2 separate regions of the Homo sapiens genome follow, and region 2 is linked to region 1. The links come from fine-mapping of genetic effects on gene expression. A gene starts in region 1. The other region holds a variant in brackets. All regions are shown on one strand. Distances are from middle to middle.

Region 1 (8,334 bases):
GGAACTCCTGATCTCAAGTGATCCACTTGCCTTGGCCTCCCGAAGTGCTGAGATTACAGGCATGAGGCACAGCACCCAGCCCAAAGTTAGTCTGAAAATGTAAATAAAATGTGGAATGTGTCCAAGAAAAAAAAAAACCTTTGAGTTATGCTTAATTCCTCTGTTTCTCTTTACCTCACATCCAATCCATCAGCAAACCCTGTCTACCTTCAAAGCATATTTAGAATCTGGCTACTTACCTCTTCCACTACCACCCGCTAGATACAAGCCACCAAACATCGCTTGCCTGGATTATTCAAGAGCTTCCTACTTGGTCTTCCTGCCTCTACCCTTGCCCCACTCCCCTTGATCCATTCTCAATACCTTACCCAGAGCAATTCTTTTAAAACATTATATTACATCACTCCCTTGCTCAAAGTCCTGCAGTGGCTCCTCCATTCCAGAGCCAAGACCAGTGGCCTACAAGGTCTATATAATCCGTGTGTGTGCCTCCTTACCCTCCCCAAACGTACTTCTCTTACTTTACCTCTCTTTACTCTCTCCTTCATTCACACACTGGACTTCTTGCTGCTCTGTAAGCTCTTTGGACACATTCCTGCCTGAAGGCCTATGGCACTTGCTGTTGCTTTTCCTGAAATGCTCCTCTCTCAGATATCTGCTTGGCCAACTCCCTCACCTCTTACCTCCTTCAATGTAACTCAACTCAAATACTACCTTTCTGAGGCATGGTCTCACTCTGTCGCCCAGGCTGGAGTGCAGTGGTGTGATCAGGACTCACTGCAGCCTTGACCCCTGGGCTCAAGCAATTCTCCCGCCTCAGCCTCCAAAGTAGCTGGGACCACAGGCAAGCACCACCATGCCCAGCTAATATTTTTTATTTTATATTTTATACAGACAGGGGTCTATGTTGCCCAGGCTGGTGTTTAACTCCTGGCCTCAAGCGATCCTCTCGCTTCAGCCTCCCAAAGGGCTGGGATTACAGACATGAGCCACTGCACTCAGCCAAATGTTACCTTTTTGATGAAGCCTACCCTGATCAAACTACTTAAAATAGTAATCTGTGTCCCATTCTTTGCTCTACTTTTTTTTCCCATAGCACTTATCATCTTTCATATACTATAATCAGGGTGATCAATTCAACCTGACTTACCAGGAACTTTTCTGGTTTTAGCTCCAGAAGTCGCACATCCGACTTAGTCCTGTCACCTTAGTCCTGAGCAAACCAGGATATTGGTCACCCTAACTATAATTTTCTATTTTTACTTTCTGTCTCTTTTCATGATAATACGTAAGTTTCACAAGGGCAGGGATCTGTGACTGCTGTGTTCACACAGAACAGTGCCTGGCACATAATAGGTGCTCAATAAATAGGGCTTACCCACCTGCCCATCACTACCTTAATCAGCCTCTTGCAAGAAGTCACCTAGCAAACTAGCTAGAAGTAATTATCTATATCATTTTGAACTCTTCAGATTTAATTCTAATATTTGAAACTGTGGCATTATAAAGTATGAGTGATTAAAAAAAAAAATGAGACAGAAAAAATGTCCATATAGGCCGGGCATGGTGGCTCACGCCTGTAATCCCAGCACTTTGGGAGGGCAAGACAGGCAGGTCATGAGGTCAGGAGTTCAAGACCAGCCTGGCCAACATGGTGAAACCTTGTCTCTACTAAAAATACAAAAATTAGCCAGGCGTGGTGGCACATGCCTGTAGTCCCAGCTACTCGGGGAGCTGAGGCAGAAGAATCGCTTGAAGCCGGGAGACAGAGGTTGCAGTAAGCCGAGATGGTGCCACTGCACCCTTGCCTGGGCAACAGAGCGAGACTCTGTCTCAAAAAAAATAAAAAAAATTAAAAAATGTCCTGACAGGGCGCGGTGGCTCACGCCTGTAATCTTAGAACTTTGGGAGGCTGAGGCGGGTGGATCACGAGGTCAGGAAATCGAGACCATCCTGGCCAACATGGTGACACCCCGTCTCTAATAAAAATACAAAAATCAGCCAGGCGTGGTGGCGTGCACCTGTAGTCCCAGCTACTCGGGAGGCTGAGGCAGGAGAATCGCTTGAACACGGGAGGCAGAGGCTGCAGTGGGCCGAGATCGCACCACTGCACTCCAGCCTGGGCGACAGAGCGAGACTCCGTCTCAAAAATGAATACATAAAAAATAAATAAAAATAAATGTCCATATAAAATTTTCAGTCATGCCCTACGTCCGTAAGTCAAACCAGGATCTTCTCAAATCACTGTTTCAAAAAATTCACATCACCCACAATTATAGACTTCAATTAAAGCGGCTTAAATTAGAAAGCCACCTTTGACATCCCTATAACTCCTTTACAAAGCAGCGGTTTCCAGTGGACGCGACTAAGACCTGCAGCACACAGGACAGGCCAAATCTTACCTCCTGTGTAGAGAAAGGAGCCAGACAGGCCTCCAAAGTAGATAAGAGCCAAGTGCTCCAGTTTCAGAGGGGACAGGTAGTAGAGGCAAGCGGCACAGACGCAGCCCAACGTGTAGAGGAAGACTCCGAACCGGACGACATCCTGCGGCTCCAAGATTCGGTCCACAAGTGTCCTGTCATCACTCTTTTTGTGGTCAATGCCCTTGGAAAAGTCATAGTAAGTGTTGACCAAATTACCGGCCCCGTGCACAGCCAGGACAGCCACGGCACAACCCACCAAGAGCCTGGGATCCAGGACACCGTGGGATCTGTAGGCAAGGGCACTGCCCAGGGCCACCGGTGTGAGTGAGGCACTGAAGCTCCAGGGCCTCAGGGCCAACACGTAGGAGGCACACTTCTGCCTCCAGGAGCGCTGGGGGAGCCTATCTTGCTCGGGACAGTCGTTCCCCAGCGGGTCCCTGTCCCCAGCTTTGACAGTCTCTCCCGACAGGATGTTAATCTTCTCCCCCAGGACCTGAGAGGCCGCCATGGAAGCTCCACGTGGTTGAAGTAAACTCTAAAAGTGAGCCACGCACAGTGACCGCCCGGGAAGGAGGAAGGACGGGGCGGGGCAGCAGGGCCCGACCTTCCTTCGGTTCCGCCCCAGGACAGGGCTGGTGTGGCGGCAAGGTCCGGGGGCAACAGCAAGTGGGTCTTACACCCCACGAGGCCAAGCGGCGCCGCCCCTACTACCCGTCACCTGGGCGAAGTCTGTCTCCGGCCCCCAGCCCCGCGTTAGAGCCCACGGCTGAGCCGCGGCCGCCTTCTTTAGGCCGCCAGAGCCGCCATCTTGTGCGCCGGCCTCTGGAGGCCCGCCCGGAAACAGGTGCCGGCGGCGCGGGCTGGACCGGAGGGTGGGCTGGAGGGCGGGAGGGGGCGGGGCCGAGCCAGAGGCGGGGAGAAGGGCGGTGAGGGGTGGGGGGCGGGGGCCTGGTCAGAGGCGGGGCGGGCAGGGCCGAGTCAGAGGAGGGGCGGGGTCAGAGGCGGGGAGAAGGGCGGTGAGGGGTGGGGCGGGGCTGAGGGGCGGGGCCAGACCGGTGGTGGGGCGGGAGGGGGCGGGGCCGGGGCGGGAATGGACCGGGAGCGGGGACGGGCCAGGAGCTGGGGCCGGGCGGTGACCCGGCATCCAGCCCTTTTCCTGCCTGCACTGCGCCCCGCAGCTACTTCCAGACTAACTGCAATCAGCCTCTCTTAGCATCATAAGAACTCGAAGGCGTGTTGCTTTAGGACTTACCGGGCGCACTTTCATTCACGAAGTAGGATTCATTAATTTATTCATGCTACAAGCATTTATTGAGCGCCTGCTGTGTGCATACATTCTGACGTCTATCATATCTGCACCGTGGAAATACTCTATGATGTGCTACTGCTCACCTCTTATCAGCTTTTCATTCAGTGACATCCTTCAGCAGCTTGAAATCTGCCCATGGTGGGAGAATTTACACCACGCAAATCAGCAAATGCTTAATAACTGCTAAGTCGTCTAGACTTAAGAAAGTGGCGGAGAAAATGTTCATATTACTGGTTAAACTTAAAAGTGTTGGAGGGTGCGGTGGCTCACGCCTGTAATCCCAGCACTTTGGAAGGCCGAGGCAGGCGGATCACTTGATGTCAGGAGTTCGACATCAGCCTGGCCAACATAGCGAAACCCTGTCTCTACTAAAAATACAAAAATTAGCCGTGCGTGGTGGCAGGCACCTGTAATCCCAGCTACTCGGGAGGCTGGGGCAGGAGAATTGCTTGAACCCGGGAGATGGAGGTTGCAGTGAGCCAAGATCATGCCAATGGGCTCCAGCCTGGGCAACAGAGTGAGACTCCATCTCAAAAAAAAAAAAAAAATTAGCCGGGGGTGGTGGTGCATTCCTGTAATCACAGCTACTCGGGAGGCTGAGGCAGGAGAATTGCTTGAACCCTGGAGGCAGAGGCTGCAGTGAGCCAAGATCACGCCACTGCACTCCAGCCTGGGCAGTAGAGCGAGACTCCGTCTCAAAAAAGAAAAAAAAGAGAGAAAAAAAGTGTGTAAGTGAATGCACCAAAACTTTGAGGAAATATTCGTTCAGCATTGGCAAATTATTATCCAGTTGAACAAATAAGTCGCTTGTAGCCTTGACAAACTAGTGAAGTTCTGACATATCTCTTTTGATTGTTTCACTTTCCTCTTACTCCTAACATAAAATATCAACCAACATTCATGTCTGAACTATGCTCATTGATCAATTGGGACCATAGGGAAGCTACACAACATCAAAGAAAGCATACTGTGAGAACTGGCTATATGGAGTTTACAATAGAGTCCTGTACTGTATATTTTAGTATTTGTAAACTGTATGCTACACATCATTTACATCAGTGAAATTATAATACACATGCAACATAGATGCACACAGGACTGACTACATAATTTGTGGTACCCAGTGCAAACTAAAGAGGTGGAGCTGGGGGTGATAATGTGTGCCTGTAGTCCCAGCTACTCAGGAGGTTTTTTTGAGACGGAGTCTTGCTCTGTTGCCCAGGCTGGGGTGCAGTGACACAATCTCGGCTCACTGCAAGCTCCGCCTCCAGGGTTCACACCATTCTCCTGCCTCAGCCTCCCGAGTAGCTGTGACTACAGGCGCCCGCCACCACGCCCGGCTAATTATTTTGTATTTTTAGTAGAGACAAGGTTTTACCGTGTCAGCCAGGATGGTCTCTATCTCCTGACCTCGTGATCCGCCTGCCTCAGCCTCCCAAAGTACTGGGATTACAGGTGTGAGCCACCGCACCCGGCGGGAGGATCTCTTGAGCTCAGGTTAGAGACCAGCCTGGGCAACAAAGTGAGATCTCCGCTCTAAAAAATTAAAAAGACCAGATGTGGTGGCTCACACCTGTAATCCCAACACTTTGGGAGGACAAGGCAGGTGGATCGCTTGAGCCCAGGAGAAGACCAGCCTGGACCACACGGTAAAAATCGAAGAATTAGCCAGGTGTGGGCCAGGTGCAGTGGCCCACGCCTGTAATCCCAGCACTTTGGAAGGCCGAGGCGGGCAGATCATGGGGTCAGGAGATAAGACCATTCTGGCTAACATGGTGAAACACCATGTCTACTAAAAATACAAAAAAATTAGCCAGGCGTGGTGGCAGGCACCTGTAGTCCCAGCTACTTGGGAGGCTGAGGCAAGAGAATGGCATGAACCCCGGAGGCGGAGCTTGCAGTGAGCCGAGATCGTGCCACTGCACTCCAGCCTGGGCGACAGAGCAAGACTCCATCTCAAAAAAAAAAAAAAAGAAAAAGAAAAAGTAAAAGAATTAGCCAGGCGTGGCAGTGTGCACCCGTGGTCCCAGCTACTTGGGAGGCTGAGGCGGAAGAATCACCTGAGCCTGGGAAGTTGAGGCTGCAGTGAGTCATGATTGTGCCCCTGCACTCCAGCCTGGGTAATAGAGTGAGATCCTATCTCAAAAAAATAAAATAAAATCAATAAATAAGTGGGGCCAGGCCAGGCACGGTGGCTCACGCCTGTAATTCCAGCACTTTGGGAGGCCAAGGTGGTCAGATGACCTGAGGTTGGGAGTTCAAGACCAGCCTGACCAACATGGAGAAACCCCGTCTCTACTAAAAATACAAAATCATCCGGGAGTGGTGGCGCATGCCTGTAATCCCAGCTACTCAGGAGGCTGAGGCAGGAGAATCACTTGAACCCGGGAGGTGGAGGTTGCGGTGAGCCGAGATCGTGCCATTGCACTCCAGCCTGGACAATAAGAGCAAAACTCCATCTCAAAAAAAATAATTAATTAATTTAAAAAATAAAAAAAATAAGTGGGGCCTCTTGTTCAAAATCATTAACAATTGCAAAACAGAGCATGACACAGCTGTGAAGCTAGCTCTGTACATGTCTGCTTCCACTTACCCCCAATCTGGTTGTTGAACATTACAACTTCACCACTCAACACAGAGCTTTCTATGCTGGCCAAACCCATGAGTCATACAATGTCAAATCAGACAATATATCAGCAGATAGATTAAAATCCTGGCTCTATCACTTACCAATTCCATGTCCCAATATCTCTGTTCTTTGGCTTACTTATATATAAGGTGGGAACAATACAACCTGCCTCATAGAAATGCTCAGGAATAATAGTAAACAGCATTTATTGACTTTTCACATGAGCCATATACTTTGTTTGCTTTTGAGACGGAGTCTTGCTCTGTCGCCCAGGCTGGAGTGCAGTGGTGCGATCTCGGCTCACTGTAACCTCCACCTCCCAGGTTCAAGTGATTCTCCTCCTCAGCCTCCTGAGTAACTGGGATTACAGGCGTCTGCCACCATGCTCAGCTAATTTTTATATTTTTAGTAGAGATAGGGTTTTACCAAGCTGATCTCGAACTCCTGACCTCAGGTGATCCACCTGCCTTGGCCTCCCAAAGTGCTGGGATTACAGGTGTGAGCCACCATGCTGGGCCAAGTACCTCTTTTAGGTACTTTACGTGTGGTATTAGCGTTTAACCCCCACAATACTGCCTACCAACGAAGAGACTATAATCCTTCCAGTTTTACACATAAGGAAATAGGTACAAAGTGTTGCAGCCAAATTTCAGATTCAGTTAGTTTGACTTGACTCCAAGCTGCTTTTAACAAGTACTCTATAATGTCCACCAAAATCCCTGATACACTGTAAGTGCTCAATAAATATTAGCTATTATTTTAGTGTAATGCATAAGAAAGTTCTTTGTAGTGGGAGTTGAACAATGAGAACACATGGACACGGGGAGGGGAACATCACACACCGGGGCCTGTTGGGGGTTGGGGGGCTGGGGGAGGGATAGCGTTAGGAGAAATACCTAATGTAAATGACAAGTTGATGGGTGCAGCAAACCAACACGGCACATGTATACCTATGTAACAAATCTGCACGTTGTGCACATGTACCCTAGAACTTGAAGTATAATAATAAAATAAAAAGACTTGCAAAAATACAATAAAAAAGAAAGTTCTTTGTAAACAGAAAAGAAACCGACAAACGCACTTATTACTGTTGCTATAAAATCATCTTTGATTATTAATTAGAAAACAGGGCTGTATCATATCTCAGGGTGGCAAAAATCTCCTATATGGCTGATGGGAATAAAAATTGGTACCTCCCTTATAGAGATCAACTTGACAAGATTCAACAAAACTGTCTAACCCTGTAATCCCATTTCTGGGAATTTATCTTGATATAGCTGTCAGGGAAGAAAATGATATACGTACAAAGGCATTCACTGCAGCATTTGTAATAGCACAAATTTGGACATAACACAAATGTCCATTCACAGAGGACTGGAAAATGAACTATGGCACAGCCATGTGATAGAACACTATGCAGCTGTAGCAACAACAAAAGGACAAGAAACTCTGTGTGTACCAAGATGGAAATGAAACCGTCCCAACAAACTTTATAAAATTAATCAGGGGCCAGGTGCGGTGGCTCACACCTGTAATCCCAGCACTTTGGGAGGCCAAGGCAGGCTGATCACTTGAGGTCAGGAGTTCGAGACCAGCCTGGCCAACATTGTGAAACCCCGTCTCTACTAAAAATACAAAAATTAGGCTGGACACAGTGGCTCACACCTGTAATCCTAGCACTTTGCGAGGCTGAGGCAGGCAGATTACCTGAGGTCAGGAGTTCAAGACCAGCCTGGCCAACATGGTGAAACTTTGTCTTTACTAAAAATACAAAAAATTAGCCGGGTACAGTGGGGTGCGCCTATAATCCCAGCTACTCTGCCGAGGTGCACACCTGTAATCCCAGCTACTCTGGAGGCTGAGGCAGGAGAATTGCTTGAACCTGGGAGGCAGAGGTTGCAGTGAGCTGAGATCACGCCACTGCACTCTAGCCTGGGCTACAGAGCGAGACTTGGTCTCAAAAAAAAAAAAAA
Region 2 (8,334 bases), 28 kb before region 1:
CGCAGGGTGTGGTAAGGCAGCAGGAACATGGGAGATGGATGGGGTGCTAGGGCCTCCGCCTCCACCCCATTTCTGTCCCTCATATCCCAATGAAATGTGGAGGGAGGTACCTATGGGGACAGAGGTGGCCCAATCTCTGAGCTTTCCCATTTTGAGGGTCAATAGAACATAAAAATGCATCCCACCTGGACGAAGTGGCTCATGCCCATAATCCCAGCACTTTGGGAGGCCAACGCAGAAGGATCACTTAAGCCCAGGAGTTGAAGATCAGCCGGGGCAACATAACAAAACCCCCATTTCTACAAAACATTTTTTAAAAATTAGGCGAGGCGTGCACACCTTTAGTCCCAGGTACTCAGGAGACTGGGGCAGGAGGATCCATTGAGCCCAAGAATTCGAGACTGCAGTGAGCTATGATTGCACCACCACGGCACTCCAGCCTGGGCAACAGTGCAAGACCCTGTCTCAAAAAAAAATAAATAAATAAAAATAAAAATAAAAAATAAAAAAAAGCATCTCTGATTCCAGCAAGGACGAGGAAGGCTGAGATAGCTCTTTAGGAGTCTGTACTTACACAGCCGGTCTCAAAGCAGAATAGGGCAACCAATGATGCATGCAGACAGGTCCCTCTCTGAACTGTTCCCCCTAGACCAGGTGCGCTGGCTCGTACCTGTAATCCCAGCAATTTAGGAGGCCAAGACAGGCGGATCACTTGAGGACAAGAGTTCGAGACCAGCCTGGCCAACATGGCGAAATACTGTCTCTACTAAAAATAGAAAAATTAGCCAAGCGTGGTGGTGCACGCCTGTAATCCCAGCTACTCAGGAGGCTGACGCAGGAGAATTGCTTGAACCCGGGAGGCAGAGGTTGCAGTGAGCTGAGATCGCACCACTGCACTCCAGCCCGGGCGAGAGAGCAAGACTCCATCTTGGAAAAAAAAAAAAAAAGAACTGCTTCCCCTAAATTCCTAATTCTCTCATACAGCTCCTCAGGTCCTCCCTCCCAGGACAGCAGCCCACAGAATGGACATCCCTCTTCTCATCTTTCCCTGATCAAAATGTCCCCATCTTGTGTAGCACTCATTTTAGGCCCTGATCCTCTGTTCTCCATGGTGACAAGCAGATTTTTTTTCCTCAATGAGAATCTCCTCAGTTATGTGCTCGTATTTTAGCAAGGACCTTTGAGAAATATAAGGCCTTTATTCAGAGGACTGACTAATGGTGGAATCTGAGGCACAGAGGCAGGTTGATGCAGAGCTATTTAGGTGCAGGAGAGCCTCAGAGCTCCCATTAAATCATAGCCATGGCTGACCTGATGGAAGAGAATGTATTGTCCTTTCCATGAAAAGTTTTCACCTGCAAACCAGTATGCTGCTGTCAGGAGTAGGGTTATGCCCTTAGGGATGTGCTTACGCCTGGGCAACATAGTGAGACCCCATCCCTACAAAAAATCAAAAAATTAGCCAGGCATGGTGGCATGTACCTGTGGTCCCAGCTACTCGGGAGGCTGAGGCAGGAGGATTGCTTGAGCCCTGGAGGCTGCAGTGAGCTGTGACTATGCCACTGCCACCCCTGTCTGGGAGCAAGACCTTGTCTCAAAAAAAAAAAAAAGAATGTGTTTAGCAAATCACTGCATGCATGGATGGATGGATGGATGAAGCCCAAACAAGAATGGAACAAAAGACCTTGATCTCATCAGCCCTTGACCTCATCCAATCTTCCAAACTCTGGCAGTCCAGGCAGAAGACCAGAGGTCCCCAGCATTCCTTCTTTGAAATGTCAGCTTAGGGCCCACTCCAGGTGCAGATCTAAGAGAGAAGGAAGGCGTCTCCTCCAAGAACTAGTCCTCAGCACCCACTGCCTTGGACCAACAAGCAGCTTCTCCCCAGGGCTGTCCCAGAAACACTGGGGCAGGGGGCAGGGGGTGCTTCCCTGCACCCATTCCATCCCAGACCCCAAGTCCCACAGAAGTGCATGCTTCTGGAAAGAGCCTGAAATAGTTACACGATTCTGTCTCCGTTTCTTTTTCCCCCTCCTGCGCTTAAGTGCCTATTAGGGACAAAGGGACAGGAACAGAGGACAATAACATCTGTTTTTCCAACAAGCTGGTGACAATGCGGATCTGGAGGCGGAGCGTGCATCAGCACTGGGGCCCAGATGCAGCCCTGCAGCTGCAGAAGCAACTGGCACTCCATCATTTATCAGGGAGATCACCCCCCAGTCAGCAGCTCCTCACTCGCTGGCATGTATCCTCACCCAGGGAGCCATCGCTGCTCTCGCTGGATCAGGCTAACCTCTCACTCTTTTTTTTTTTTTTTAAATCTCTGGTGGCTTTCAGGAGGAACCTGGAAGCCACAAGTCCTCCAATCTTAGTCCTGCCGTCTCAAGATTAGGACCAAGGATGGGACACAGAGCATGGCGGGAAAAGCACTGGGTTAGAAGTCAAAGGACTTGGCTTCTCATCCCAGCTCTGCCATCAGCTCTGAGACCTTGGGCTGCTGGGTCTGTTTGGGGACATTGAGAGCAAGCTGTTTAACTTGCTGAAGGAGCCTCAGTTTCCTCATCTATAAAATGGGAGCTATCATACCTCAGTCATGGAATTGCTAAGAGTCTCAAGTGTGGCCGGGCGCAGTGGCTCAAGCCTGTAATCCCAGCACTTTGGGAGGCCGAGGCGGGCGGACACGAGGTCAGGAGATCGAGACCATCCTGGCTAACATGGTGAAACCCTGTCTCTATTTTAAAAATACAAAAAAATTAGCCGGGCATGGTGGCGGGCGCCTGTAGTCCCAGCTACTTGGGAGGCTGAGGCAGGAGAATGGTGTGAACCCGGAAGGCGGAGCTTGCAGTGAGCCAAGATCGCGCCACTCACTGCACTCCAGCCTGGGTGACAGAGTGAGACTCCGTCTCAAAAAATAAATAAAAAATTTAAAAAAAGAGTCTCAAGTGTGAGAACACACATACACGATCCTAAGTTGGCTCAGACACAGAGTGACTGGGAGCAAGGGGGTGAGCCACGGCCGTGTGTGTTTCTGCAGGTGACCTGGAGGCCACTCCTGCCTAAACCTGACTCCAATGCCCAGACATGGCTGAGATGATTTACATCAGTCAGACTGCACAAAGCAAATAGAATCAACCATCCATTCACCAGGCATGGTGACTCACGTCTGTAACCCCAGCATTTTGGGAGGCCGAGGCAGGTGGATCACTTGAGGTCAGGAGTTCGAGACCAGCCTGGTCAACATGGTAAAACCCCGTGTCTACTAAAAATACAAAAATTAGCTGGGTGTGGTGGTGCATGCCTGTAGTACCAGCTACTCGGGAGGCTGAGGTGGGAGGATCACCTGAGCCTGGGGAGGCCGAGGCCTCAGTGAGCGGTGATCTTGCCACTGCACTCCAGCCTGGGCCACAGAGTGAGACCCTGTCTCAAAAAAAAAGACAGAAATTTTGAATAAACAAAAATTTTTTTTTGGCCGGGCGCAGTGGCTCATGCCTGTAATCCCAGCACTTTGAGAGGCCAAGGCTGGTAGATCACTTGAGGTCAGGAGTTCGAGACCAGCCTTGCCAACATGGTGAAACCCTGTCTTACTAAAAATACAAAAATTAGCCAGGCATGGTGGTGGGCGCCTGTAATCCCAGCTACTCAGGAGGCTGTGGCACAAGAATCACTTGAACCCAGGAGGCAGAGGTTGCAGTGAGCCAAGATCACACCACTGCACTCCAGCCTGGGTGACAGAGGGAGACTGTGTCTCAAAAAAAAAAAAATTGTAAAAGTTATTAGATGTCTTCAATGGAAAACCAAGCATTGTTTGGAGCAGAGCCTTCCTGCTATTTGACTCCTGGCTGGGCAACATGGCAAGACTCTGTCTCTACAAAAATTAGGCCGGGCATGGTGGCTCATGCGTATAATCCCAGTACTTTGGAAGGCCAAGATGGGTGGATCACCTGAGGCCAGGAGTTTGAGACCAGCCTGGCCAACATGGTGAAACCCTGTCTCTACTAAAAATATAAAAATTAGCTGGGCATGGTGGCACGCACCTGTAGTCCCAGCTACTCGGGAGGCTGAGGCAGGAGAATCACTTAAACCTGGGAGGCAGAGGTTGCAGTGAGCTGAGATCGTGCCACTGCACTCCAGCTTGGGCAACAGAGAGACTCTGTCTCAAAAAAAAAAAAAAAAATCCATCAAACTGTGAAGACCCCTGAGACCCTGTCTCTGATGGAGCCCCTCAATCCTACCTCTTCCCCCTCTTCTCCAACATCCAAGGCCACCAGCATGACAAGCCGGCCACATGCCTGGGCAGCTCAGAGGAGCCATGGGAAGGGTTAAGGGAAGGAAAGGCAAGGAGGAGAGGCCGGAAAGAGGGTGGGAGATGAAGACAATAACAAAAGAGGCAGCTGTGAGTCTTTCAACATTTTAAAAGAGATTGAAATTGAAAACGAGAATTATAAAAGGCAACCGATCAC[G/A]CTTTGCTCCCCCCTTCAAAAGAAAGAAGTGTTGAAAATGAAAAAGACTGTTAACCAAATGAGTGCTGCTTTTAGAGTTGGAAGAGAACCAGTCCAGGCCATGTGTGGTGCTCCTGTGCGGTGGTTGTGATCCCGAGCAAGTCACTGAACCACTCAGCCCATGAAACAAGCCGAGCATGCACCTCTCAGGGCCATAGGGAGGCCAGCGTGAGAAAAGCACGGAGAAAGCTTCAGTGAACCCCAAGTTGCTGCCCGGATCCAGCGTCTGGTGGCTCTCACTGTGACTGTGGTTAGGCGGCCTTGACATGTTGCTGTCATGCCCGCCACTGAGAGAAACAAGGGAATGAGTATCAAGGATGACCCAGGGCAGGCAGTGGGGTTTCCAGGGCAGGGCCTCTCCTGGGGAAGCCCATCTTCTCCCACCTCTCATGCAGTGAGATTGGCTGCAGCCACTGTGATGGCCTAGGGCATGGATTACACCGTGCTCTGCCCTGCTTGACTGACTTGGTTATCTTCGCTCCTCACCATCCCCTCCCTGTTCCTTCTTGGAAATGGAATGGCTCTTCTCAGCACAGCCACCCAGCCCCTGCACCCAGCCTCTGTGCCAAGCTGGCAGGATAACGAATGGCTCCACCTCCTCCTCGCCTCCGTCAGGAGGGGCTCTGAGCAACCCTCTGCTCACAGCCCTCTGTGGTTTCCCCTTATCCTCCTTGGAGCTGCATGGAGACTGCTTGTCTAGACATTGAGATGGCTTTACCAGGTGTCGCTCACTGCATTGGGTTCCCTTCACGTTCAGCACCTACTGAATACCCAGGATAATAACTGCACCACTGCGGGGTGCAGGAGGTGTCCCCAAATGTCCATAAGTGTACACACATATGTGCACACATGCACATGGGAAACTTTTATTTATTTATTTATTTATTTATTTATTTATTTATTTTTGGAGACAGGGTCTCATTCTGTCACCCAGGCTGGAGTGCAATGGCACAATCTCAGCTCACTGCAACCTCCACCTCCCAGGTTTAAGTGATTCTCCTGCCTCAGCCTCCGGAGTAGCTGGGATTACAATATGTGCCACCATGCCCGGCTAATTTTTGTATTTTTAGTAGAGATGGGTTTTTGCCACATTGGCCAGGCTGGTCTCAAACACTTGACCTCAGGTGATTCACCTGCCTCGGTCTCCCAAAGTGCTGGGATTACAGGCATAAGCCACTGTGTCTGGCCCAATTTTTTAAAATATAATAACAACTCTGGTGGGGAGCAATGGCTCATGCCTGTAATCCCAACACTTTGGGAGGCCAGAGTGGGTGGATCACTTGAGGTCAGGAGTTTGAGACCAGCCTGACCAACATGGTGAAACCCTTCTCTACTAAAAATACAAAATTAGCTGGGCATGGTGGTGCATGCTGTAATCCCAGCTATTCGGGAGGCTGAGGCAGGATAATCGCTTGAACCCAGAAGATGGAGGTGGCAGTGAGCCGAGATCGTGCCACTGCACTTCAGCCTGGGCAACAAGAGCAAAACTTCGTCTCAAAAAAAAAACAAAAAAACAAAAAACAATAATAGTAAAAGTAATAGTAACAACTCTGGTAAAACAGACATCAGATGTTTTCCAGTTTTCTTCCCTTGTTGAATGAACCTGGACTGCAGCCCAAGGGGATGTTATCTTTCCCTTGTACCTAGAGATTCCTAAAGCCTCTCTGAAGGACAGGCCACTCACAGCCACATGTAAGACCACCTGTCTCTCCATCCAGGACTTCTTCAGCGCATTCTCAACTGTCAAGCCTCCAGGGCTGTGAAGCATTCGAATGAGAAGTCACCTTGACAATCTTTGACCCCAAGGCCAAGACCCCAACTTTTTCATAGTCACCCCACCAGGATTCTGATCTCAGCACAGCCAGGCTTGGCTCTCCTGACAGAAGGGCTGCAGATGGGTCATCCTTTGGTTTCTGCATGGAACTTATCCTGGTGCCAGGGCAGAGCCCCTCGGAATCACCAAATGGACACCCCCACCCCCATACACAGAGTGCCATTCAGGCTACTATAGCAAAATACCATTAAACTAGATGGCTTATACACAACAGAAATGTCTCACAGGTCTGGGGGCTGAGAAGTCCAAAACCAAGGCAGATTTGGTTTGGTGAAGGCCACTTTCTGGTTCATAGATAGTGCCTTCCAGCTGTGTCCTCCCATGGAGGAAGGAGCAAGGCAGCTCCCTGGGGTCTCTTTGATCAGGGCACTAATACTCTACCCATGAGGACTCTACTCTCGTGACCTAATCACCTCCCAAAGTTGCCACCTCCTAATACAATCATGTTGGGGATTAGGCTTCAACATAGGATTCAACATTAGGATTCAACATGAATCTGGGAGGATACAACATTCAAACCACAGCAGAGAGTTTCACAATGAATAGTTGTTTCTTTTCTATCTCCCTTACTATCATATAAGCTCTGGGAGCATAGAGATCTGGTCTTGTTCATTTTCTATGTTTAGTTTTAATACAGTTCCTGGTACTTATCAGGTGCTCAATACATGTTTGTTGAATGAATGAATGAATGTACCAGGCACTGTGCTGAGTACTGGGAAGAACATGGACCCTCAGCCATGGGCCCTCTGCCTTGGTAGGAAAGTCTAAGATTACACAAAAAACAACATTCTAAAATAGTCATCCATAAGAAAGGAAAGGGGGCTGGAAGCAGTGGCTCAGGCTTGTAATCCCAGCACTTTGGGAGGCTGAGGCGGGCGGATTGCTTTAGCCTAAGAGCTGGAGACCAGCCTGGGCAACATGGTGAAATCTTGTCTCTATAAAAAATACAAAAATTAGCTGGGCATGGTGGTGCAAGCCTGTAGTCCAAGCTACTCTGGAGGCTGAGGTGGGAAGATCACCTGAGCCCAGGGAGGTTGAGGCTGCAGTAAGCCATGATTGTGCTACTGCACTCCACCCTGGGCTACAGAGTGAGATCCTGTCTCAAAACAAAGGGGGGGACAGGGGGAACTCACTTTATGAAGTGCCTACTACTCACCAGGCACATGCTAAGTACTCTGTGAGCACTACCTCATTTAAACCCAAAATTACCCTACAGGGCAAATCCTATCATCCTCCTTTGCAGAGGAGGCACCGGAAGCTCAAAGAGGTTATGTAGCTTGTCTGAGGGTATCCCGGGGGTGAGTGATCGAGCCTGGACTTCTACCCACCCAGTGCTGCCAGACTCGAAAGCCCAAACTCTTTCCACTTCACCAGTCAAGCTCCAGGAGTGATATAAGGTGTGCCTGTTTGTCTGTCTGTCCTCTGGAGAGTGTAAGTTTCCTGAGGACAGGGATAAGGTCTCATTTACCATGATACCTCCCAGAGCTTAGCAAGTGCCTGTAACATAATACTTGTTCAATAAATTGACTGGTCTTGCAGCCACCTGCAGATGGCATCAGAGGAGATCTAGTCATAGATAGTGAATTGATCGCAGTCTGGAACAATGGGGCATGGAGAAGTTCATCTCTTCTGCCCTCATTTCCCCACAGCCTTTATGCCTCTATGTCTCACACATGGCTGTGAGTGGCCTGTCCTTCAGAGGGGCTTTAAGGATCTCTAGGGACAAGTGTCTATGTTGACACTTGAGGTGGCAGGATAATGTATGCATGTAGCTTTTGCTATTAGTTCACTGTGTGTCCTCAAAGGGCAGGGGTGTGCCTCGTTTATCTTGCCTCCTGGGACAGAGCAGGCTCTCAGTAAAGGTCTTTGGCCAAGGCAAGTGTCAGCTGGAAGGCCCTCATTGGTGACCATGGTGACCTCTGACCCCCTCAGCACTTCCCCTGAATCTGAGGGCCTCCCACCTGGTATTCCCTTGGCCTCAATGTGGCCCAGGGCTGAGGG

The links. PIP is the estimated chance that this variant, and not a neighbour inherited with it, causes the effect.
Region 2: its variant is fine-mapped to the expression of UBIAD1 in whole blood (TOPMed, PIP above 0.99).

What each region holds. Positions count from the first base shown.
Region 1 is chr1:11,268,129-11,276,462 of GRCh38, reverse strand. It overlaps UBIAD1 (UbiA prenyltransferase domain containing 1), which reads right to left and starts at 3,265. Exons shown (of 2, transcript NM_013319.3): 1 at 2,403-3,265. The coding sequence starts at 2,931. RefSeq lists enhancers at 2,997-3,046, 3,137-3,306 and silencers at 3,307-3,356, 3,417-3,686.
Region 2 is chr1:11,295,639-11,303,972 of GRCh38, reverse strand. It overlaps a transcript of UBIAD1 not described here. Among named protein-coding and RNA genes, the nearest start is that of UBIAD1, 27 kb to the right of the region's middle. The variant G/A (reference allele first, on the strand shown) is at 4,461.